Regions from separate parts of the Homo sapiens genome. Here region 2 is reported to be linked to region 1. The links are microRNA targets in miRTarBase. Many come from high-throughput screens and were not tested one by one. Region 1 holds a microRNA gene; the other region holds the end of a gene's coding sequence.

Region 1 (15,733 bases):
TTTTTGTTGTTGTTATTGTTTTTTTTTTTTTTTTTTGACAGTCTCACTGTCTCAAAAGAGTGCAAAGTGGTATCTTATTGTGGTTTTGGTTTGTATTTACCTGGTGAGTACAACAGTGTCCATTGAGCACTCCGCAGCCTGACTGCAGAGCCACCTGCTGTGTAGCATGGACCTCCCCATGCAGTGGGAGACATGGGGTCAAGTCCTGGCTCGCTCTCTGGCTGCATTGGGTGACCCTGAGCAAGTGCTGTACTTTCTTTTTTCTTTTTTTTTTTTTTTTTTTAATGAGACAGAATTTGCTCTTGTTGCCCAGGCTGGAGTGCAATGGCGCCATCTCAGCTCACTGCAACCTCCGCCTCCCAGGTTCAAGCGATTTTCCTTTCTCACCCTCCCGAGTAGCTGGGATTACAGGCATGCGCCACCATGCCTGGCTAATTTTTTTGTATTTTTTTAGTAGAAACGAGGTTTCTCCATATTGGTCAGGCTGGTCTCGAACTCCCGACCTCAGGTGATCCGCCCGCCTCAGCCTCCCAAAGTGCTGGGATTACAGGCGTGAGCCACCGCACCCGGCCTGCTGTACCTTCTTTGTGCCTCAGTTTCCCTCTTTATTCAATGGGGCTATCTTCCAGGGTAGCCTCGAGGCTAAGATCTGAATCCATGGCCCCTTACTGTCTGCTCCTTTCCTCTCCTAAGGACTCCAGTGGGGGTGACTCATGTGCTTCTGAGGAGGAACCAACCTTTGACCCCGGCTATGAACCTGACTGGGCTGTCATCAGCACTGTGCGGCCACAGCTCTGCCACTCAGAGCCCACGAGAGGTAGGCTGAGGTGGCGGCCCTTGAGAAGCACGTGTGGGCCAGGTAGGACACATCTTGCCCTCAGTGGTCACGGTCCCAAGGGCTTTGCTGCCCACAATCAAGAAGGCCACCAGTCACCACCTTCCAGTCCCAGGAGCATGGAAGTGAATGGGAAGACAGGACTGTCCCAGCCCAGGTCAACATGGCCAGTGTCTCTGAGACTGCAGCCTTGCTCATCCTACTGGGCTCCCGGATTGGCTGTGGGTGCTCCCACACCAGGCCTGCCCCTGAGGTTCGAGGCTGGTGGGGTGACAGATGCAGCCAGTTAGGGTGATTTGCACCATCCTGGGGTCACACAGGGTGCAGGGGACATCCAGAGAAGGCACGTGACCCCTCTGGGGAATGGAGATTCCTTCCAGGAAGAGGTGATGCTGGAGCTTGGCACTGAGGGACTCTTGGGAGTTTTCTCTTCTGGCAGAGAGAGCAGCCCGTGCAAGCCAGAGGCAGGCGGCCCCCGTGTGTTTAGGGAGCCGCTGGCCTTTCATTGTAGCTCAAGTGTGGGATTTTGAGTGAAGAAAGGTTGGAGGTAAGATAGGCAGGGGCGAAGGACAGACCCGAGGGGCCTCGAGTGCCAGGTTGAGGAATAGGGCCCTTACCCTGCAGGTCGAGGGGTGCCTAGGAAGGTTCTGGAAAGGTACATGTCCACTGGGCCCCCTTCCCATCTTACTCATTTGTGCTTCCAAGGAATGTGAGGCCAGGGGCAGAGGGGTGGCTTGTGGCGGGGCCCTCAGGAGATGCCTGTGCCGAAGGAACATCCTGGGTTGTGGTTGATAAGGCTGACTCTGGCTTCCCACGCGCTTCCCCCAACACAGTGCCGTCTCCCTAGGTGCAGAGCCCAGCTGCCCCCAGGGCTCCTGGGCCTTCTCAGTGAGTCTGGGGGAGCTAAAGTCCATCCGCCGCTCCAAGCCAGGCCTCAGCTGGGCCTACCTGGTTCTGGTGACCCAGGCTGGAGGTTCCCTGCCCGCACTGCACTTCCACCGCGGGGGCACCCGCGCCCTGCTCCGCGTCCTCAGCCGCTACCTGCTGTTGGCCAGGTGAGCTCTCTCCCAGTGCTGGGCCTTAAACCGGGCCCAGTCCCACCATGGCTGCAGCGTGACCCCTCGGGGCTGTGAAAGAAACACAACTCACACTGATTTAAAGGCAGGCAAAGAGTTGACCAGCACATATAACTAAAAAGTCAAAAAGGAGTATTGATTTCAGGCAGGACCCAGGTCCCAAAATGTTAGAAACAGTTATCCTTTTTCCCTCTGAGTTCGTTATTCTCTGGGGCCCCAGTATCCGTGGCTTAACAACCCGGCTGGATAGAAGGCACCTCTTTCCCCACGTTCCAACAAGATCCCAGAGCTGCTTCTCATTGGCTCGTCCCTGAGTCAGTCACACTGGACCGGAAGGTGAAAGGCCCTCATTGGCCAGCCCCGAGTCATGTGCCCACCCCTGGGATCCAGCTGTGGGCCTCCTTTAACAGCATTCCCTGAAATGAGGGGTTGCCCAGGGGTGGTTGGGACGCTGCAGCTGGAACCGATGTCGGCCGAGCACAGACAGCCTGGGACACTGGGCCCCTACCTGTGCATCACCTGTGCGTCACCTCCCGCCTCCCAGCTCCCCGCAGGACTCCCGCCTCTACCTTGTCTTCCCCCACGACTCCTCTGCTCTCTCCAACTCCTTCCACCACCTGCAGCTCTTTGACCAGGACAGCTCCAATGTGGTGTCAGTGAGTGTCCCCAGCAGGAGGCCTGGCGGGTGTGGGCAGGGAGGGACGAGAAGGGGCGGGCCGTGACCTCCCTTTGGCCTCGTCCCCAGCGCTTCCTCCAGGATCCCTACTCCACCACCTTCAGCAGCTTCTCCCGAGTGACCAACTTCTTCCGGGGTGCCCTGCAGCCACAGCCTGAGGGAGCCGCCTCCGACCTTCCCCCGCCACCCGACGATGAGCCCGAGCCTGGATTCGAGGTCATTTCCTGTGTGAGTAGTGAGTGGACCCTCCCTGTTATTTCTGGCCGTGTCTCCCTGGGCGCATGATTTCATTTCCCTGGGCCTCAGTTTCCTCTTTGGTAAAACGGGGATGGTAATGGGACACCCTCAGGGGGTGCATGAGGAAAGCGCTCATGGCTCTGCCAGACACTGTGAGCACCTGCTCACCCTTATTGGGGGACCCCTCCTAACTGGGGGATGACTTGGCTGCTGAGCCCCGGAAGAGGCTGCTGCCTGCCCCTGAATGTTAGTCATCCGTCAAGCTAATAAGCTCTCTGAGCTTGTGGACTGAGGCTGGGTTGGGTCCCCCCACCACCCCGCCGAGCCCCAGGCTCATTTGCTCTTTGCCTGCAGGTGGAGCTGGGGCCTCGGCCAACCGTGGAGCGGGGCCCTCCAGTTACAGAGGAGGAGTGGGCACGCCACGTGGGCCCTGAAGGTCGCCTGCAGCAGGTCCCTGAGCTGAAGAACCGGATCTTCTCGGGGGTGAGTGCCAGGACAGGTGGAAGAATGGGGCAGGGCCAGAACAAGGCCCCACTGAGCTGCCTGCCCTCCTGCACCCCCAGGGTCTGAGCCCCAGCCTGCGGCGCGAGGCCTGGAAGTTCCTCCTAGGGTACCTCAGCTGGGAAGGCACAGCTGAGGAGCACAAGGCCCACATACGCAAGAAAACGTGAGTTCTCAGGAGGCCCTGCCCTGCCAGGCATGACACCTGGTACCTCCTAGGGCACCAATGGGCAAGTTCTGTGGACGCTGGTTGTGAACCTGCTGTATCTGGGCACCATCCTGCGCCTGTGGAATACGGCAATGATCAAGCCAGACCCATCCTCACCCCTGTATGGTCTGTCTCCATTGCAGTTTTCATTCCTGTGCCATACTGTTTTAATGATCACAGTTTTGCAGCATGTTTTATAACCTAGGAGGGCCCGTCTCTCCTCATTCCTGGTGTAGGTTATATACCTGCCAGGCACTGAGGATGCAGCAGTGCTGGACGATTCCCTGTCCCTGGTGCCCTGTCCAGTGGGGGGTGACAAATTTTCATCAAAAGGCCACAAGGCTATGTAGTGAGAGATGCCAGGAAGGTGAAGTGTAAGGGATAGTGGCAAGAATGACGAGGTGACCTGCTTGGGTCTGTGTGGTCAGGGAGGGGCTCTGCAGGGCTGACCTGGGAGGTGGCGCCAGGCTTGGAGGTCTCTGGGTGTTGCAGACAGTGGCGGCCTCACATCTTGTTTCCCTCTGTCACTCAGGGATGAGTATTTCCGCATGAAGCTGCAGTGGAAATCTGTGAGCCCTGAGCAGGAGCGGAGAAACTCACTTCTGCATGGATACCGCAGCCTCATCGGTCAGTGTCAGGGGTGGCACTTAGGGTGGATGGGAGCAGGGAACCACAGGAGGGCCTCAGGCATAAGTGCGAGTGGGAGATAGAGGGAGCCCCCTGCCTCCCCAAGACCAGTGAGAGGGCATCTTGGGGGAAAGCTGCATGGGCTGTTGGGGAATGGCCCTGGGGGAGCAAGGCCAGGGACAGGATGGGAAAGAAGGGGAGCCCAGCTCCCTTCAGGCCCAGTCTCAGTTCTGTCAATGCCTGGTGATCTTGGCAAGTGATTTTGCCTCCCTGGGCCTCAGTTTCCCCTACTGTGGGAGGATATAGCCAGCTGGTGAGTGGGAGGCCTGGCGCCTCACAGCAGGAGCATCAGTGATAGTTTCTAGAACCAGCTCTGCTTCTCCCCCAGAGCAAACCCCGAGGCTGGGGGCTGCCAGCAGGAGGAGCAGTGGGGGCTGGCACTGGTGGCCAGCAGGGATGGGCCCCCCTACCTTTCTCACCTTTGCACCCTGTGCCCGGTCCCCGCAGAAAGGGATGTGAGCCGCACTGACAGGACCAACAAGTTCTACGAGGGTCCCGAGAACCCGGGGCTGGGCCTGCTGAACGATATCCTCCTCACCTACTGCATGTATCACTTCGACCTCGGTGGGTGCCAGGCCTGGGGACGGGCGTGGCCGGGGCTGTCCAGGGGAGCGCTGCGGGCTTGGCTGCAGCCTGACCCCATGTCCCCCCAGGCTACGTCCAGGGCATGAGTGATCTTCTCTCCCCGATCCTCTACGTCATTCAGAACGAGGTGGATGCTTTCTGGTGTTTCTGTGGCTTCATGGAGCTCGTGGTGAGGCTTGGGTCAGGGGTGGGACACAGGCCTATCGAGCGATCAGGTGTCCTGGTACCTCACGGGGTCTGCTCTTTCCCCCCTCCTTCCGTCCCACAGCAAGGGAACTTTGAAGAGAGCCAGGAGACCATGAAGCGGCAACTCGGGCGACTGCTGCTGCTCCTGAGGGTGCTGGACCCCCTGCTCTGCGACTTCCTGGGTATGTCTCTCGGGAGGGTGGGCAGGAGACAATGGGGCCATAGACCTTGCCAGATTCTCTGGTAGCAGCCACAGTGGCATCCTGGACATTGGGTCCTGATCCAAACAAGAGAAACATCCCCACACAACCTAGAATGTAGAGGCAGAATTGCTGTTTGAAGCAAAACTTCACCAAATGCAGACACGCAGGAATGCTGACTCACCCCGTCCTCATGCTCACCTAGATCCTGTTTGGGCTTTGCCTTTGGCTTAACCTGCAGGGTATTTTTCAGAAATAAGGACCTAGGCATTCCTGCCACTTCTTATCCCCACCTGGCTGTGGCTCACCTTGAACCAGGAATCAGAGACTGGTTCTCTGGGCCCTGGGGCTGGGGGTGCTGCATCCCAGCTTTAACATTTTTATTCTTCGACCAGGCACAGTGGCTCACACCTGTAATCCCAGCACTTTGGGAGGCCAAGGCGGGCGGATCACTTGAGGTCAGGAGTTCAAGACCAGCCTGACCAACATGGAGAAACTGTCTCTACTAAAAATACAAAATTAGCTGGGCCTGGTGGCACACGCCTGTGATCCCAGCTACTCAGGAGGCTGAGGCAGGAGAATCGCTTGAACCTGGGAGGTGGAGGCTGCAGTGAGCCAAGATCACACCATGGCACTTCAGCCTGGGCAACAAGAGCGAAAGAAACTCCATCTCAAAAAAAAAAAAAAAAAAAAATATATTCTTTATTACTTGGTCAATGTAAAAACTGCAGGAAATTAAGATGAAGAAGAAAAAGTAAGGCTGGGTGTGGTGGTTCATGGTTGTAATCCCAGTGCTTTGGGAGGCCAAGGTGGGAGGATCACGTGAGCCAAGGAGTTTGAGACCAGCCTGGGCAACACTGGGAGACCAAAAAAAATTGGGAGACTACAAAAAGATTTAAAAATTAGCCTGGGCGCAATGTCATCCTGGGATCACGCCTGTAATCCCAGCACTTTGGGAGGCCAGGCAGGTGGATCACTTGAGGCCAGGAGTTCCAGACCAGGCTGGGCAACATAGCAAAACTCTGTTTCTACTAAAAATACAAAAAAATTAGCCAGCCGTGGTGGCGCCCACCTGTAATCCCAGCTGTTGGGATCGGCTGAGGCACAAGAATCACTCGAACTGGAGTGGGGGAGGTAGCAGTGAGCAGAGATTGTGCCATTGCACTCCAGCCTGGGCAACAGAGTGAGACCTTGCCTCAAAAAAAAAAAAAAAAAAAAAAAAGGTCGGGTGTGGTGGCTCACGCCTGTAATCCAGCACTTTGGGAGGCCAAGATAGGCAGATCACCTGAGGTCAGGAGTTCGAGACCAGCCTGGCCAACATGGTGAAACCCCGTCTCTACTAAAAATACAAAAATTAGCCGGGGGTGGTGGCGAGCACCTGTAATCCCAGCTACTCAGGAGGCTGAGACAGGAGAATCACTTGAGCCAAGGTTGCACCACTGCATTCCAGCCTGGGCGACAGAGCGAGACTTTGTCTCAAAAAAAAAGAAAAAAGAAAGTTAAAGTTGCTGTTTGATATCATTGTTTTTCTTGAGTGCAGATGGTGATGATAATAAGTTAAACTTATTCATGAACATTTCCTCGATGCTTTAGGACCCCCGGGGGAGGGAGCTGAGATACTCTGTCCTCACCTTACTGATGAGGAAACTAAGCCATAGAAAAGCATCACCTCCTAGGGCACAAGGACAGAGGCTGCCTCTGGGTCATTCAAAGTCTTCTGAAACATCACTTTTCTTGACTGCGCGGCATTGTGTCCACCTGCAAGATGTGGTAGATTTGATGTAACTTGACCTGCTGGAGATTCGGGTCCTTTGCAGTTTTTCATCACGGTGCATAGTCTGGGTAATTTCTTCTTTAGGTTCACTTCCAAGAAGTGGAATTTTGTTCAGGACAGTGCTTGTTTTCACACAGCTTTGGAGAGTTTGTCCTCCGTTGTTACTTTCCTCAAAGGTTAGAATGCTCAGACTCTCACTTTCATTTGAGTTAACTTGGGGGGAAAAAAAGGTTCAACACCAGCTTAATTTTTTTTTTCTTTTTGAGATGGAGTCTCGCTCTGTTACCCAGGCTGGAGTGCAGTGGTGTGATCTCGGCTCACTACAACCTCCACCTCCCGGGTTCAAGCGATTCTCCTGCCTCAGCCTCCCAAGGAGCTGGAATTACAGGGGTGTGGCACCATCCCAGCTAATTTTTGTATTTTTAGTAGAGATGGGGTTTCACCACGTTGGCCAGGCTGTATTTTTAGTAGAGATGGGGTTTTACCATGTTGGCCTGGCTGGTCTCGAACTCCTGACCTCAGGTGATCCACCCGCCTCACCCTCCCAAAGTGCTGGGGTTACAGGCGTGCGCCATCGCACCCGGCCTTCAGCTTAAATTTTTGCTACAGCGTATCTAGGAGTGTCAGTTCCCTTAGCGCTCACCAGCAGCGGGCAGAGGTCTGTTTCGTCGGGCGTGCTGGGCGTCCTGCCTCCCTTCCATGTCCATGGCAGATGTGGAAGTATAATAGCACACTTCCTCTGGAGAGTGGGAGGAAGGAGGGGCAGGGCCCGCGTTCAGGGCTGCTCCTGCCTCACCTCCGAGGTTCCCCAGCCAGGCATAAGTCACTTGCCTAGACTTGGGGAAGGTCTTCCAGTCAGGATGACTTCTCAAACTCTCAGTCCCAGCGCTGGGCAAGGCTGAGTGGGCTCCATGTCATCCCCCAGATTCCCAGGACTCCGGCTCTCTCTGCTTCTGTTTCCGGTGGCTGCTCATCTGGTTCAAGAGGGAATTCCCCTTCCCGGATGTCCTTCGGCTGTGGGAGGTGGGCCAGCCAGTTTGGGCGAGAGGCCTGAAGGGGTGGGCTCACCTGCCCTGGGAGGTTGGGCGGAGAGGGACAGACCCTGGTGGGACCTCAGGCCCAGGCTGGGCTATGACCTCCCTCCCTCCCTCTGTCCCGCACCCTCAGGTGCTGTGGACAGGGCTCCCTGGCCCCAATCTGCACCTGCTGGTGGCCTGCGCCATCCTGGACATGGAGAGGGACACCCTCATGCTGTCCGGCTTCGGCTCCAATGAGATCCTCAAGGTGAGGCTCCGGCCCCGCCCCCGCCCTGTCCCCCCTGAGCTGGGCGCTGCCCAGGGCCGCAGTACCTCCGGGGAGCAGGTGTTTAGTGTGGGATTATTGAAAGCCTGGTTAGTTGGGAGCGCAGTGGGGGTGGGGCCGCGTAGGTTTCCCTTCTGCCCCATGCCATGCCTGCTCCCAGCAAGGTCCTCCGGGCAGGTGGGTGGGGACCTTCCCTCCCCGAGTACGTGCTCAGAATGCTCCCGGAGGCCTGAGAAGCATGTCTCGCCCAGCGCACTTCTGAGCCCCCAGAGGGCCAGCCCGGTGTGTCTTCATTGTTTCCCAGCACGAAGCACAGAGTGGGCGCTCGGGCGGAGGTGGTTGAGTGCCGACTGGCGCCTGACCCACCCCCTCCCGCAGCACATCAACGAGCTGACTATGAAGCTGAGCGTGGAGGACGTGCTGACCCGCGCCGAGGCCCTGCACCGCCAGCTAACCGCCTGCCCCGTGAGTCCCCGTCCGCCCCGCAGCGCCCCGCCCGAACCCCGACCGACCCCCGCCCCCTTCTCACCTTCACCTTCCGCTTTTCGCTTCTCTCATCCCGTGCCTCCAGGAGCTGCCCCACAACGTGCAGGAGATCCTGGGGCTGGCCCCGCCCGCAGAGCCCCACAGCCCCTCGCCCACCGCCTCCCCGCTGCCTCTGTCGCCCACCCGGGCCCCGCCCACCCCGCCGCCCTCCACGGACACAGCCCCGCAGCCCGACAGCAGCCTGGAGATCCTGCCCGAGGAGGAGGACGAGGGCGCCGACTCCTAACCCCGCCAGGCAGCCTCGTTCTGCACAGGCACTTTAGCCCGAGCCAGGCACACCTGCGAGGGGGCAGGTGTGCTCCGCCGCCCTGCTGATAAGCTGGCTTCATTAAACTGACACTTCTCATGTGCAGTTGGCTTCTTGTTGGTGGGGGGAAGGCTGCCAAGTGGGCTCTGACCTGGTTGAGGAGGGGATGGTGGCTGGGCAGAGCCTAGGGTGAATGATTGGGGTTTGTGGAGGCAGGGCTTCCTGAGTTGCCTGATTTGTTTTTTTGTTTGTTTGTTTTATGAGATGGAGTCTTGCTCTGTCGCCCAGGCTGGAGTGCAGTGGCAGATCTCGGCTAACTGCAGCCTCCGCCTCCCGGGTTCAAGCAATTACCCTGCCTCAGCCTCCTGAGTAGCTGGGACTACAGGCGTGTGCCACCACACCCGGCTGATTTTTGTAATTTTGGTAGAGATGGGGTTCCACCATGTTGCCCAGGCTGGTCTTGAACTCCCGACCTCAGGTGATCTGCCTGCCTTGGCCTCCCAAAGTGCTGGTATTACAGGCGTGAGCCACCGCGCCCGGCCTGATTTGGGGTTTTTGGAAGAGGATAGGGTGCTCTGGGCTGTGGCGGCGACCTGGTAGCTGTGTGGGAACACTTCCCGGACATAACCAAGGTGGAAGGGCCTGCAGAGATGCACTCTGGGGAGCCTGCCCTCCCAGCTGCTGCTTGTGAGAAAAATCACCTCCTGTTCAGCCACTGTCAGCTGGGCTTTCTGTTACTTGCATTAGGGCCCATCTGGACTTCAGCCTCGTGACAGAGGTGGTCGCTGTGATTGCCATTTCCCGGTGGTGCAGGGCGTCCTTCCGGTTCCCTCTGTGCGCACCACCCCCCACCCTCCTCTGGAGCCCCACTGTCCAGGAAGAAGTGAGGGGCAGATTTTTGGGGGGGCTCCAGGATGGGCGTGGCGCCTGCTAACTGCAGGGCTAGTGGTTCCGATGCAGGCAAACTGGGGAAGTAACTGAGCCACGGGGGAGGCTGGACCACACGGCTTTTTCCGAAAATACTTTAATGCGAGGTCCTCGTGTGGGTCGTGTTTTGGAGAGATAACTGGCCTTGGACTGGAGGGTGGCTGCCTTCTTCCTTTGCCAGGTCATGCGAGGGGCTGCTGGCCACCCCATGCACATGCCCCTGCCCCTCCATGTCAGATGCGTGCCCCTCGGGGCTGGCCGTGTCCGATGCAGGCCCCTTCCGGCTGTTGATCTTGATGGCGGCGCGCAGCGCCGACTTGACCGCCGTCTCCACCCAGCCGTGCGGGTAGGCGGTGTGCTCGCCGGCAAAGTAGATGCGGCCATAAGGGACCGTCCAGTCATCCTTTTCGGTTTGCCAGAGCGCCGGCGGCTGTACCACAAAGCCACCCTGGCTGTGCTGGTCCTCCGCCCAACGCTTGACGACGCCGGTGCCGTCCCAGAGCTGGCGCACGACAGGCCCGTGCAATGCCGCCACGTCGTCGAGCGCCAAGCGCAACGCCTCTTCCCGGCTCAAGCCGGCGAACGCTGCCGCCGCGTCCGACCACGTGTACGAGGCCAGCAGCAGCGCGCCCTCGCGCGGCGGCGGGTAGAAAATCATGCGCGACGGGCGATCGGTGTTTGAGTGGCCGCCTTCAATGTGCTCCTCGCGCCAGAAGGGCCTGCGGAAGCTTAGGAACACCTTGGTGGCCGGCACGTAGTGCAGCCTCCGCAGCGCCTCCTGCATGTGGCGGGGCAGCGGCGGCGAGAAGGTGATGCGCTTCACCGCCGGTCCGCTCGCCGTCAGCAGCACCACGTCGGCCTTCAGCACCTTCAGATTCCGCGCCGGGGGAGAGGTCTCGATCTGCACGTGCACATCGTGCGGTCCCTGGGTCATCGCCACCACGGGCGCGTTCAACAGCACAAGCCCGGACAGCGAGCTCAGCAGCGCGCGCGGCAGCAGGTCCCAGCCACCCACGATGCGGCTGTACCTGCAGGCGGGGCGGGGCGGGGTGGGGGCGTGACCTGGGCTCTGCGGCCCTGCCCCTCTGCCTTGCCCCACCCACCCCGGCAGCTGGCCCTTATGGGCACCGGCCCGCTCCCCCGTCATCCACCTCTCCCGACCCCGCCCGTCCCTGACATCCCAAAGGCCGCAGGAGTAGTGGATTGTGTCACCAGGGACCCCACCACTTCTCCCCTAGGCCGTGTCCTTTATCTGGGAACCCTTAGCCCCGCGACCATCAATTAGGCCACGCCCTTCACAACAGCCCCGCCCCCAGACCCAGAGGCTCCTCCCACTCCCTGCTACTTTCCCTGATTGCCCCCCGCCCCCCCCCCCTGCCCGCCAGCCCCGCCCCTTACTGGAGTCTGTCGCTGAGGCAGCTGTGGGCCCGGAGGGCCTCGGCGAAGCTGAGATAGAAGAAGCCATCCTCGGACATCACGTCTCCCAGAAGCTGCACGGCCGGCCGGCTCAGGTTCCCCTCCCCGAGAAGATATTCCTGCAGGTTGGGCACAGGCCGAGGTTAGGGCCCAGGCAGGCTGCACCCCTGAGAGAGCCCCTCCGCAGCTGGGCCTCCTGGTCCCATGACATGTCCTTGGACCGTAGGATCCTGTCCCCACTCTCTGACAGATGAGGGAAACGGAGGTCCAGACAGGGGGCGTGTCCAGCCCCCGGGTCAGGCAGGAAGGCGGTGGCAGGACTAGGGTGCCAGGTACCCGCCTTCTGACTCTCTGGGGAAGGCCTCATGGTCACTCTCTTTGCCCTGCATCTCAGCAGAACCAAGATCCCCACTTACCAAGAGCGTGTGCCTTTCAAACTTCTTCATCGCCTTTCTGCAGCCCAGTGCCTTGAGGTCTTTGAGGGCCTGTTGTGGAAGAAGCAGACATGGTGCTGAGCTGCCCGGGCAGCCAGGGTGGAGGCCGGGCCTGGAGCCCACACTCGGCTTCTCCTCGTGGTTCTGCCCACGGCTGGCCATTCACCACTCTCAAGCCCCTGGGCTTTTGCCCACACCATGCCCTCCGCCTTGCCCTCCACGGCAACTCAGATGCCACTGCTCCTCCGATATTACCGAACTGTTAACGCCGCCCATCCCCCCTCATTCGGCTGGCCCGGCTGGTCACAGCTCATCCCGGTTGCGTGTTATTTTGCCTATTTTTCAGCCAGCCAGCCAGACTGTGAGCTCCATGGAGGCAGGGATGTGGGCAGCTGGAGAGGAGACTGGGAGAGGGTCCCAGGCGTGCTGTGTCCTCCCGGGGGCTCAGTGATTATTTGTTGCCTGAATCACTGTGGCCACGGACAGAAGCTGGTCCCCTGTGCCACTGGTCAGTGCTGACAGGGCATGATGGCTGAGAAGTTTATCTACCGTCCGTCCCCTGCCCACAGCCCTCCTGTAGCTCCCCAGTGCCTGGAGCCACAGAATTCTTGCCCCTCAGCCTCATGTTCAAGGCCCCTGCTAGCCCCTCAATGTCTTTTTTTTTTTTTTTTTTTTTTGAGATGGAGTGTCGCTCTGTTGCCCAGGCTGGAGTGCAGTGGCGCCATCTCAGCTCACTGAAACCTCTGCCTCCCAGGTTCAAGTGATTCTCCCACCTCACCCTCCCAAGTAGCTGGGATTACAGGCGCCTGCCACCACACCTGGCTCATTTTTGCATTTTTAGTAGAGACAGGGTTTCATCATGTTGGTCAGGCTGGTCTCGAACTCCTGACCTCAAGTGATCTGCCTGCCTCGGCCTCCCAAAGTGCTGGGATTACAGGCGTGAGCCACTGCGTGCCAGGTACCCGCCTTCTGACTCTCTGGGGAAGGCCTCATGGTCACTCTCTTTGCCCTGAATCTCAGCAGAACCAAGATCCCCACTTACCTCAGTCCATGTCTTTTATGGCAGCTCTGGTTCTGTGAACAGTGTACAGTGCCCAGACCACCTGCCCTCAGGGCTCTCCCACCTACACATCTGGCACCTATTGTTTCCCTGCCTGTCTTTGCGTGGCACATGAGTGCGTGTTCTTCAGCACTTTGTTCGAATCTCACCCCCTCCCAGAAGCCTTGCTGCCCCCATCTAATTTCAGCCTTCTTCTTGGTCCACCTGGCTTCCCCCTTCTGGCCAGGACCTCAGAGGGAAGGCAGTGCCCCTTCACTCACTCATGCATCTCGCATCTCTCAGACTCCCAAACCAGTCAGTGTCAAGGCATAGAAATGACCTGGACATGGCCCCCATCCTGGTCTAGAAGGGGAGATGGGCAAGTGGGCTCTGACCTGGGTGGGGAGGGGATGTTGGGTGTGGCCAGTTCCTCCCTAAAGGTATCAGGGAAGGCTTCCTGGAGGAGGGGACATTGGAGCTAGTTCTTGAGGGCTGAGCAGGAGTTCCTGTGTGGGGAAGGGAAAGGCATTCTGGAAAGGGAGGGTGATACACAGGTATAGTGGGTGTGAGGAACACAGAGCTGGGGGCATGTGGACCACCATGAGGACAAAAATTTCTTAGAGGAGAAAAGAGCATGAGGCTGGAGGGGTGCAGAAGGGAAGGCCAGTCAGGGCTCAAAGCTGAGCCTGAAAAGATCAGACTTTGTCCTGGAGGCAGCGGGGAGCCACTGGGGGCTGTGAGCAGCATCACTCTGGGTGTGTGGGAAGACGTTTCTGGTACCAGGCTGGGGAGACTAGAGCCTGGGCAGCTTGAGAGGAGGCTGGGGGAGGGTCCAGGGCAGAGGAGGAGGCCTGAGCTGGGGCAGGCAGAGGGGAGCAGGGCACAAGCGTCAGGCGGCAGGGGTGGGCACTGATGGTGGGGGAGGTGGGCGAGGAGGAGGTCAGGAGGAGGATGGCTCCTAGGGGTCTGCCCGTGACTGCGGGATGGTGGGGCCATCGTGAGATGGGGGCACCGGGAGGAGGAACAGGTTTAGGGGAAGCTTCTGAGCCCAGTGTCCTGGGGAGGGACACAGATCAGGGTCTCGGGAGGCAGATGTCTCCATCAGCCCATGGATCTATGTTTAAGCCAGAGGTGGAGACTGGGGAGGTTATCCAGGACAGTGTGTGGGTGAAAGGGGAAGAGGCCAAAAGCTGATGCAGCTTTGGGGTCAGCAGTGTTTACGGGGAAGCTAAAGAAGGGAGTTGGGGCCGGGGGCAGTGGCTCACGCCTGTAATCCCAGCACTTTGGGAGGCTGAGGCAGGTGGATCACGAGGTCAGGAGTTCAAGATCAGCCTGGCCAAGATGGTGAAACCCCGTCTCTATTAAAAATACAAAAATTAGCTGGGCGTGGTGGCGGGCGCCTGTAATCCCAGCTACTCGGGAGGCTGAGGCAGAGAATTGCTTGAACCTGGGAGGCGGAGGTTGCAGTGAGCTGAAATGGCGCCATTGCACTCCAGCCTGGGTGACAGAGTAAGACTCCATCTCAAAAAAAAAAAAAAAAAAAAAAAAAAGAAGGGAGTTGAGAGATGACCCATATGTGTAGAAGCCCCTGGGCTGGCCCATTCTCATTCTCGGATTTCAGTGAGTAGGTCAGTGGTTAGACCTCATGGCACACATCCCCTTGGTAGAATTTCCATCTCCACCAACAGGCGCCCCACCCCATGGAGGGGACTGAAGGGATGCCAGAGAGAAGAAAAGCCGGGCCGGGGCGAGCTTAGGAGGAGGACAGAGAAGTCAGGGCGGGAGGAGGGTGCAGGCGGTACCCACCTGGTTGAGAGCCATCTGGTAGATGTCTTCGGGCGAGTGGCCCTTTTCCTGGGGACGCAAGGCGTAGCCCAGCTTCTCGGGCACCTTCTCCACCACATAGTTGCGCAGCTTCACTTCGTGCACCTCCGTCCACGTGTTCTTGTCGTACTGGGTGAACTTGGTCAGGTTGAGCCCCAGGCCCTGGCAGAGCTTGTGGAGGATCCTGATCAGGGGAGTGGGTGAGTGAGGGCCGGGCTCCAGTGGGGGTGGCCTGGTCCCTAGTGGGACTTGGAGAAGAGGGGTGGGAGGGGAGAGTAGCTGGGGACCAGCATGAGGCTGGGGGTGGGGCTAGATTTGGGGTAATCAATGCTGGGGGATGGGAATGAAATGGGGACAAGGCTGGAGGCCTCAGGGCAGTACCAGGATTAGGATTGGGTTAAGAGTGGGATAGAGCCCAGATTAGAATTGGGAAGGGGGACAGAGTTTGGGTTGGACGGGGGTTTGAGATGAAGAAGGGGCCTGGGGCTGGGGTGCCTGAGGGTGTGGGGATGGTGGAGCTGCAGGCCTGGAGGGGCCAGCACAGGAGCTGGCTTTTGCACCAGGCAGGGCCAGCTGGAGGTCTGGTTGGACCAGGTGGCCCGAGTGTTGCCAGAGGCCCAGGGCTGGCGCTGGAGGCAAGACTGAGGTGAGGATTAGGCGAAGGATGGGGTTGGAGGCTGGGTTTGGGAGTCAGAGTGGAAGTTCGGGCCCACTCTGGTGTGGGCATGGAGCTGGGGGGCTAGTTGAGTCTAGGCACACAGGTGGGTGGGTTGCTAGGTCACCTGTGAGAGCTGGGCATGCGCATGGCTCCCAGCTCCCCAATCCAGCCCGTGTTCTGGTCCCGGTAGGTGAAGATGCGGCCCCCGATCCTGTTATCTGCCTCCAGGATGGTGACCTGAGGGAGTCCGTGGGGCGAGGAGGGCCCTTCAGCTCCACCCACTGACCATCCCCTGCCCTCTACCACCCCGTGCCAGCCCCCTGCCTTCTTCCATCCCCACAGTGGCCCAGACCCAGACTAGGAGAGGGTCCCCTT
Region 2 (7,000 bases), not on the chromosome of region 1:
AGCCCACCCAGCTTCTCTGCTGTCCCACGAAGGATGGGAGATATAAGTTCCATGTGGGAAGGTGGCTGAGAGCGGGCAGGGCAAGGGCCCAGGCCGGGCAGCCAGAGTACCAGGGCCGGTTCCCAGCCTCCTTCAGCCTCAGACACGCCCTGGAGTGAATGGTTTCCATCGGCTGGGAGATGGAGTGAGGCTCCTTCATATACGTGGGGAGCTTGGGGGTCTAAGCTGTGCAGAGCCCGCCAGATCAGTCCCACGCTGCACCACAGGGCCCACACGTCCTCTCTCAGCCTTGCTCCCTCCCTGTGTACTGGGCTCCCGCCCTTGCAAGCCCCCAGTGGTGGCTACATGGTGCCAGGAGAGGAGTGGCTTGCTGCCAACAGTGTGTGCTCTCTGGGAGGTCCCCTGCCATGAGTTTCCTCCCCAGGACCTCACAGGCCCCAGGGTCAGCCAGCAGGAAGGGCACGTCCTTGGGGCCCACCTCTTAGGACGGTGGGACTTTGACAAAGTCATTTCACTTCTCCATGCCCAGGTGCCCCCCACTGTGGAGTGGAGTGGATTACCACACCCACCTGGTAGGATGCTATGAGCAGCACTGGGGGAGACCTGAAAGACATCAGGGCGCCGTGTGGCACACACGCACATTTGTCACCTGTCAAAAGTGGCAAGTCAGCAGGGAGTCCTGGAGGACAACCAGGGCCGTGAAGCACTGGCAGGGTTTCTGGGTACAAGATGAAGGGAGGAATCGTGGGGGTCCTGCATGGGGAGGAAGGAGCAGGGTAGTGGAAAGGACAGTTTGTGCAGGGTGAATGTGGGGCCACATCACAGGAGCAGGCAGGCACCTCTGGACAGCAGCCTGGATCAGGCTGCTGAGCTGGGGGTGGACCAGTTGCTCCGGCCCCATGGGTGGCAGCCTGGAGTGAGGTCCTGGTTCAGCCTGTGCCCTGGGAGTGGCCCTTCCTCGGGGATGCTGTTCCCTGGTGCAGTCTTGTTGATTTTGTTCCCAGAGTTTTGCCTCCATGGGCAAGTTCCTCTGCAATTTGGGCCTTGACCTCCCCATCTGTGCCTTCTAGGAGTTGGAATAGACTCTGGGCCGGGTGCGGTGGCTCACGCCTGTAATCCCAACACTTTGGGAGGCCGAGGTGGGTGGATCACCTGAGGTCAGGAGTTTGAGACCAGCCTGGCCAACATGGTGAAACCATGTACAAAATTAGCCGGGCTTGATGGCACACACCTGTAATCCCAGCTACTCAGGAGGCTGAGGCAGGAGAATCACTTGAACCCGGGAGGTGGAAGTTGCAGTGAGCCGAGATCGCACCACTGCACTCCAGCCTGGGTGACAGAGCAAGACTCCGTCTCAAAAAAAAAAAAAAAAACAACACTCTGCGGTTGCTCCTGGGTCACTGGGGAGGGAGGCACAGAGGAGAGCTGGCTATCTCAGACAGTCCCACGGAGCATCCCGTGCCAGGGTGAGGGGGTAGAGGGGCTGCAGGGTGCCGGCAGGGTGGAGGGGCTGGGTGGCTGGCTTTGTGTGCTCCACACCCACTTCCCCATGGCACAGATCAGGGGCACTGAGGTTCAGGGGATGAAGTGGCCTGCTCAAAGCCATGTGGCTGGGACATGGCAGACCAGGGGCACAGAGCCAGGGCTGTGTGGCTCTTGGCATCTGTCAGGCTGAAGCTGCCCCGGCCCACAGAGGAGTGCTCGGGCTGCAGGAAGGGTCGGATAGGGCTAAGTGATGTCTGAATTCCTCACCCGGGGGCTGCTCGGGAGTTGCAGGCAACCGCACACCTACTGGGCCTCTAGCAACAGCAGCAAACGTTCACTGGATGCCATGTAGTGTCCAGTCTATAGGGGAGACAGCAGTGAAAGGCCCACCCCACACCCTTGCTCCTGCCGTTCCTGCACCTGCGGGACTTCTATTCAGTCTTTGGGGCCTGCCACCGTGGAAGGAAGGGCAGGAAGGAGGGAGGCAGGAGGGAGGGCGAATGAACAATGTACTCGAGGAGCAGAGGGGCTGGCACGGCTGTGTTTTGAAACATGAGAAGCAGAGGCTGGGATGTTCCAGGGCAGAGGGAATCTGGTGAGCCGGTGAGCAAAGACTCAGAGGCAGCTAAGTGCTGGGCATGGGATGAAGGGCCATGTGTCTGGCGTGGCCAGAGCCAAAGACCGGGCACACAGACCCAGGTTCTGTCCAGAGACAGCCAGGGTCCAGCAGGAGTCTGGAGCAGTGACTGTAGGACAGAAGCTTGCAGGCTGCCTGTGGTGGGCCTTCTAGAAGCCTCCTGCTCCCTCTCGGCCTTCCCTCTCCTGGTAACTCCAATCTCTGATACCTACCAGGGGCTGACTTTGGGGAAGTCCTTTCCCTTCCTGGGGCCTCAGTTTATCCTCTAGTCTGATGGGGCAGGACTTGAAGAGTCCATCCTGCTCTGATATTCAGCACCTCTGCGCTTCTCTACTTGGGCTGGAGGCAGATCCCGCCCCCACCCCCCACCACACCTTCCCCTGAACTACCTGCCCTTCCTATACACACACACACACAGCCAAAGATAAGGACCAGAGCCGGGGTTCTCCTGAAAGCCCCTGGCTAGTTTCCAAACTGGCTGGTCTCTCTAAGACAGGTTGAGAGAGGCGCCTGGAGGGAGAGGTACAGGAAGCACAGGCTTTGGAGCCAGATCCCATCCTGCCTGGGCCCTGTGTCAGACCCCAGGAGGCAGGGATCCCTGCCTGGGGGAGCTCAAAGGGGCCTGGGGCCTGCACTTCCTGGGCCTCGTGCAGATGTGTCCCCACACTAGGAAGCACAGGGCCCCAGCCTTCTCAGGAAGCTCCTGGCCCCTGAGGCTGTGTGTTGGGTCATCTCGCATCTCCTGAGTCAAAGCAGAATGGTAGGTTTAGGAACTCAGGGGTGGGGCAAGGTGAAGCCTGTTACTAGCCCATGTCCCAGAGAACAGGGTCCTGCCCTTCCTCTCACTGGGCCCCTACTGCCAGGTGGAGGGTGGGATTCTGGTCTTTGAGGCCCATGCCAGGCAGAGGTTGGCCTCCAGGCTAGCGCTCCTGCCTTTAGGAGGAGCAGCCACAGGTTCTGGGAGGGCAGGGGCTGTGTCCAGTCAGTGTGGAGACCAGCTTCAGCCTGAGACCCAGCCTCTGAGCCACTATTGGCTTCAGTTCCAAACCCACTGGGGGGTGGGGGCAGGAAGCAAGGCTGCCCCTCTGTTTCCTGGTCCGCCCAGCACACACTTTTCCTGAGGCCTACTGGTCCGCCCAGCACACACTTTTCCTGAGGCCTACTGGTCTTCACAGACTCCTCACAAACTCATCAAGGTGCCCCTGGGAACCGAGGGGACAGGGCTCTGCCTTTTATCCCCTCGGGAAGGGGCCAGATTCAATAACAACACTGCTTTTGGGAAAGGCATTGGCCACTTTGGACTTTATTAGCAACAGTAATGTCCCCTGACATCCGCACAAGCTTGTAGCTCCACGGCCAGGTCTTCCCCCAACCTCACAATGGCCCCGTGATGCAGGCAGGCAGGCGAGTGGGGGTCTCCCCTCCTTATCCACAGGCCACCGAGGCCCAGAGAGGGCCTTGCCCGAGGTCACCCAGGGAGTGGCTTGCTGGAGCCCTGGGAATAACAGTCCCACACAAGGCTCTCTCCCTCCGCAGCTGGACCTGTACGCGGGGGCTCTGTTTGTGCACATCTGCCTGGGCTGGAACTTCTACCTCTCCACCATCCTCACGCTCGGCATCACAGCCCTGTACACCATCGCAGGTATGGTGCCTGCAGCAGGGAGGTCCACCCAGGGGACGTGTAAAGGGGTCAGAAGGCCACCTCCCCCTACAGGCCCGAGGGAGCAGCCCAGGAAGTGGCCCCAGCAGGAGCCCCAGAAGTTCCTCCCCGTGTCCCTCCTCCCTGGGGCCAGGGCCCCCTCCAGCAACCTTGCTTCCACTGGCAGGGGGCCTGGCTGCTGTAATCTACACGGACGCCCTGCAGACGCTCATCATGGTGGTGGGGGCTGTCATCCTGACAATCAAAGGTGAGGACAGAGTCTGTGGCCATGGCGGGGCTGTCCCCACAGCGAGCCCTTTGGAGTCTGGCACTGCCCGGCACTGTGCAGGATTCATGCCGTTGGGGTTCTGGGTAGCATCGCTGGGAGTGGGTGGGTTCAGGAGGTTGAGCCACTAGGCAGTCAGCCCCCCTGCTGGCCCCTCAGGGACTGCCCTGGCTGGTAGAGGCTACCCACCCTGCTGCCCCGCTGTTACCAGCTCTGGCCCTGGCAAGGAGCTGACTCAGGAACTCAGGGCCAGCCACACCCGCATTGGCTCAGCGCTTGATGGTGAGGTGGGGCTGTAGGCGGGTGTGAAGGCACACAACCAGGAGGCCATAAAACTGCCTGGGCAGCTCCTCCAATTGTTTAAAAGCATGTACAAAATGCCAAGAGGTGATGCTACCTCCTGCAGGACAAAGGCCAGGGAGGAAAGAAGAGAGCTGGGAGAGATTGGCGATACTAGTCTGGAACAGATAGGAAACTCACAGGGCTGCCCGGAGAGAGCGTGAGCTCACCGTCCCTGGAAGTATGTAAGCAGAGCCAGGAGGATCCCTCAGAGAGTGAACAAATCTCTAAAGACTCTTCCAGACTCAGACACTGGGACCCTGTGGCTGAGCAGTTTCTAACCCTTGAATGGCACTTGTTCATTTGCTCTGAGCCTCACACAAACCCTCGGTCTGAATACAGAGCCTGACCTGAGCTCCATGGGAACAGTGATGCTGGGGAGACCAGCATCCAGGCAGCAGGCTGCCTCTTCCATGTCCCACTTGGAAAAGGCTAGGGAGTAGGGCCTGGGGTGGAAACGGGTTTTCCTACATCCAGGCTTCTCCCTCTCAGACCAGGGGCTCTAGTGTCCCTGGGACCCACCGCATGAGAGGGATCCCAGCAGCCAGGCCCAGTCTGGAAGGGAGGGGAGTGACACAGACACAGATGGGCCAGGGCTTGGCCATGCCGGGCCCTGACCCCGAGGTAGACAGGAACAGTGAGGTGTTTTGGACTGGAGAGGAAAAAGCCCCGGCTTGAGCCCGCCAGATGGTCTATATGGTCTTGGTGGAGGCCCCATCCCTCTCTGGACCTGTCTCCCTCTTCTCTGTGCCTCAGGGGGTGGGGCCACATCACCACCAGCCACTCTCAGCTCTGCTAAAATCACACCCTTCAGGTGATCAGGATGAACACTTTAGAAGCCTCAGGAAGGTCCTCAAATGTCAAGAAAAATTACTTTTGCTTCCTTGAATCGACAATCGGAAACCTGGCTGAGAACCACTTGCCCAAGGCCGATGAGTGTCCAGAGGCCAACAGTGACTCCTGCTGGGCCAGCGGGACACTGGGGTGCCCATGTGCAAAATGCTTACTTAATAGTATTATTTTAAATACGAATAAAATAGTCATTCAAATACACCTTAAAAAAAAAAACAACCCTCTACCCTCACACCTTTCCAAACACTGGGAAAGATGAGGTGGAAAAAACTCAAGTTTGATGCATCAGGAAGTTTCTTGTGAGATGAAGGCAGGGGGGAGCCCAGGGAGTCAGGGCCCCGCAACCACCAAACTGTCCCTGTTCCACCCTGACCCCTCCAGCTTTTGACCAGATCGGTGGTTACGGGCAGCTGGAGGCAGCCTACGCCCAGGCCATTCCCTCCAGGACCATTGCCAACACCACCTGCCACCTGCCACGTACAGACGCCATGCACATGTTTCGAGACCCCCACACAGGGGACCTGCCGTGGACCGGGATGACCTTTGGCCTGACCATCATGGCCACCTGGTACTGGTGCACCGACCAGGTGAGTGCCAACGTCTCCCGCCCATCCCACCTTCCTGCCGTCCCAGTGGGCTCTGGTAGGCCCAGGCGGCCTGTCTGCCCTCCGCGTCATGAGTCTGGGCTGGGGCCTCAGAAGGTGTGGCTCCAGGCTGGGACATGCTGCTAGGGGTCTTTGCGGTCCCGGGGGGCTTGAGCCCTCCGTTTAGAATCCGATGAGGCCCACTGGCTACCGCCCGTCCTGGCCTTTAGGTGCTTCGACTGAGACAGTTTGGAGTATGGGATTCCGAAGGGACTCGGATGCTCCTCGGTGGCCCTGCCATCGGTCATGGGGCGGGCATTTTGGGCCAGTCTTGGGCTGCCGGGATCCGGAAGCAGGCGGGGTACCTGACCTCCCTTGGCCTGCCAGTGGTGGGGGCCAGCCATGGCTGGGCCAGCGTTTCTGGTAGAGCTCTGGACGCTGTCAGCAGCAGAGCGGTACCTAGGGGGTCCTGGGAAGCCGTCTTTATCCCTAGTCCCTGAGGCAGGGACCCTGTGATGATGAAACTGCTGGCCCTGGGAGAGAGAGAGCAGAGAGTGAGGCTGAGCAAGAAGGGCCAACCCCGCCCCAGCACAGGACCCTGCTCAGGCACACAGGAGCCGGCAGGCCCGGGTTCGCCTCCTGGCTCTGCCATTCACCAGGGAGTGGGCCTAGACCAGTTGGTTTAGTCACTCGATGCCTCAGTTCCCCTGTCTGTAATATGGGAATAATCCTGCCCTTTGTGGGTGTAGCAAGGCAGCTTCCTCCCAGCTCACCCCCGCAGCCTCCTCTATTCCGACACAGGCCTGGGACGTGGTTGGAAATGGGCTGAATGGGGTTGTTGGAGGCAATGCAGGAGTTTCTGTTGAGTGCAGGGGGTGACTCTGGCCCTGCCCTCAAGACCCTGTCACCAGCCCTCCAGGTGACCTCAGATGAGCTGCTTCCTGTCTCTGGGCAGAAGCAGATGGTGCCCTTGCTTTGCTTGTCCCAAAGGCCGTGGGCAGCTCCAGGGAGCATGGGGGTGGGAAAAGGCCTGTGAAGCAGTGGGCACAGGCCCCACAATTGTCCATGCCTCTGGACCCAGCCCCAGGGGTCCACCATAGGACAAGGCAGCCACAGCCAGCCTCTGTGGAATGAACGATCACAGCGCTCACACAAGCCTTTCCCACGTGGCCTACCCT

Evidence for each region. The annotated mature microRNA hsa-miR-4750-3p reads CCUGACCCACCCCCUCCCGCAG and lies in region 1 at 8,624-8,645, shown strand. An mRNA with a match to its seed (bases 2 to 7 or 8) in the 3' UTR can be bound and repressed. Matches are read on the target gene's strand: a 7mer-m8 pairs with bases 2 to 8, a 7mer-A1 pairs with bases 2 to 7 and ends in A, and an 8mer does both.
Region 2: miRTarBase lists FAM83G as a target of hsa-miR-4750-3p. Seed matches in the 3' UTR shown: 7mer-m8 at 5,607-5,613 and 7mer-m8 at 5,000-5,006.

The regions. Positions count from the first base shown.
Region 1 is chr19:49,879,586-49,895,318 of GRCh38, forward strand. MIR4750 (microRNA 4750) reads left to right here and starts at 8,590; the gene lies at 8,590-8,645. It overlaps TBC1D17 (TBC1 domain family member 17), which reads left to right. Exons shown (of 17, transcript NM_024682.3): 4 at 694-817; 5 at 1,683-1,890; 6 at 2,456-2,567; 7 at 2,657-2,815; 8 at 3,179-3,307; 9 at 3,388-3,491; 10 at 4,066-4,160; 11 at 4,668-4,784; 12 at 4,874-4,974; 13 at 5,074-5,173; 14 at 7,891-7,988; 15 at 8,133-8,249; 16 at 8,646-8,732; 17 at 8,839-9,165. The coding sequence ends at 9,039. IL4I1 (interleukin 4 induced 1) reads right to left here. Exons shown (of 8, transcript NM_152899.2): 4 at 15,483-15,595; 5 at 14,683-14,884; 6 at 11,820-11,888; 7 at 11,386-11,522; 8 at 10,069-11,015. The coding sequence ends at 10,085. LOC124904743 (a long non-coding RNA gene) reads right to left here and starts at 7,891. Exons shown (of 4, transcript XR_007067293.1): 1 at 7,609-7,891; 2 at 6,861-7,178; 3 at 3,984-5,301; 4 at 2,505-2,589. RefSeq lists enhancers at 10,494-11,161, 11,162-11,830, 11,831-12,497 and silencers at 10,537-10,706, 10,937-11,126.
Region 2 is chr17:18,965,394-18,972,393 of GRCh38, forward strand. FAM83G (family with sequence similarity 83 member G) reads right to left here. Exons shown (of 6, transcript NM_001039999.3): 6 at 3,396-6,355. The coding sequence ends at 5,966. It overlaps SLC5A10 (solute carrier family 5 member 10), which reads left to right. Exons shown (of 15, transcript NM_001042450.4): 6 at 3,659-3,764; 7 at 3,949-4,029; 8 at 5,620-5,825. Among named protein-coding and RNA genes, the nearest start is that of SLC5A10, 17 kb to the left of the region's middle. RefSeq lists enhancers at 2,541-3,484, 5,371-6,312.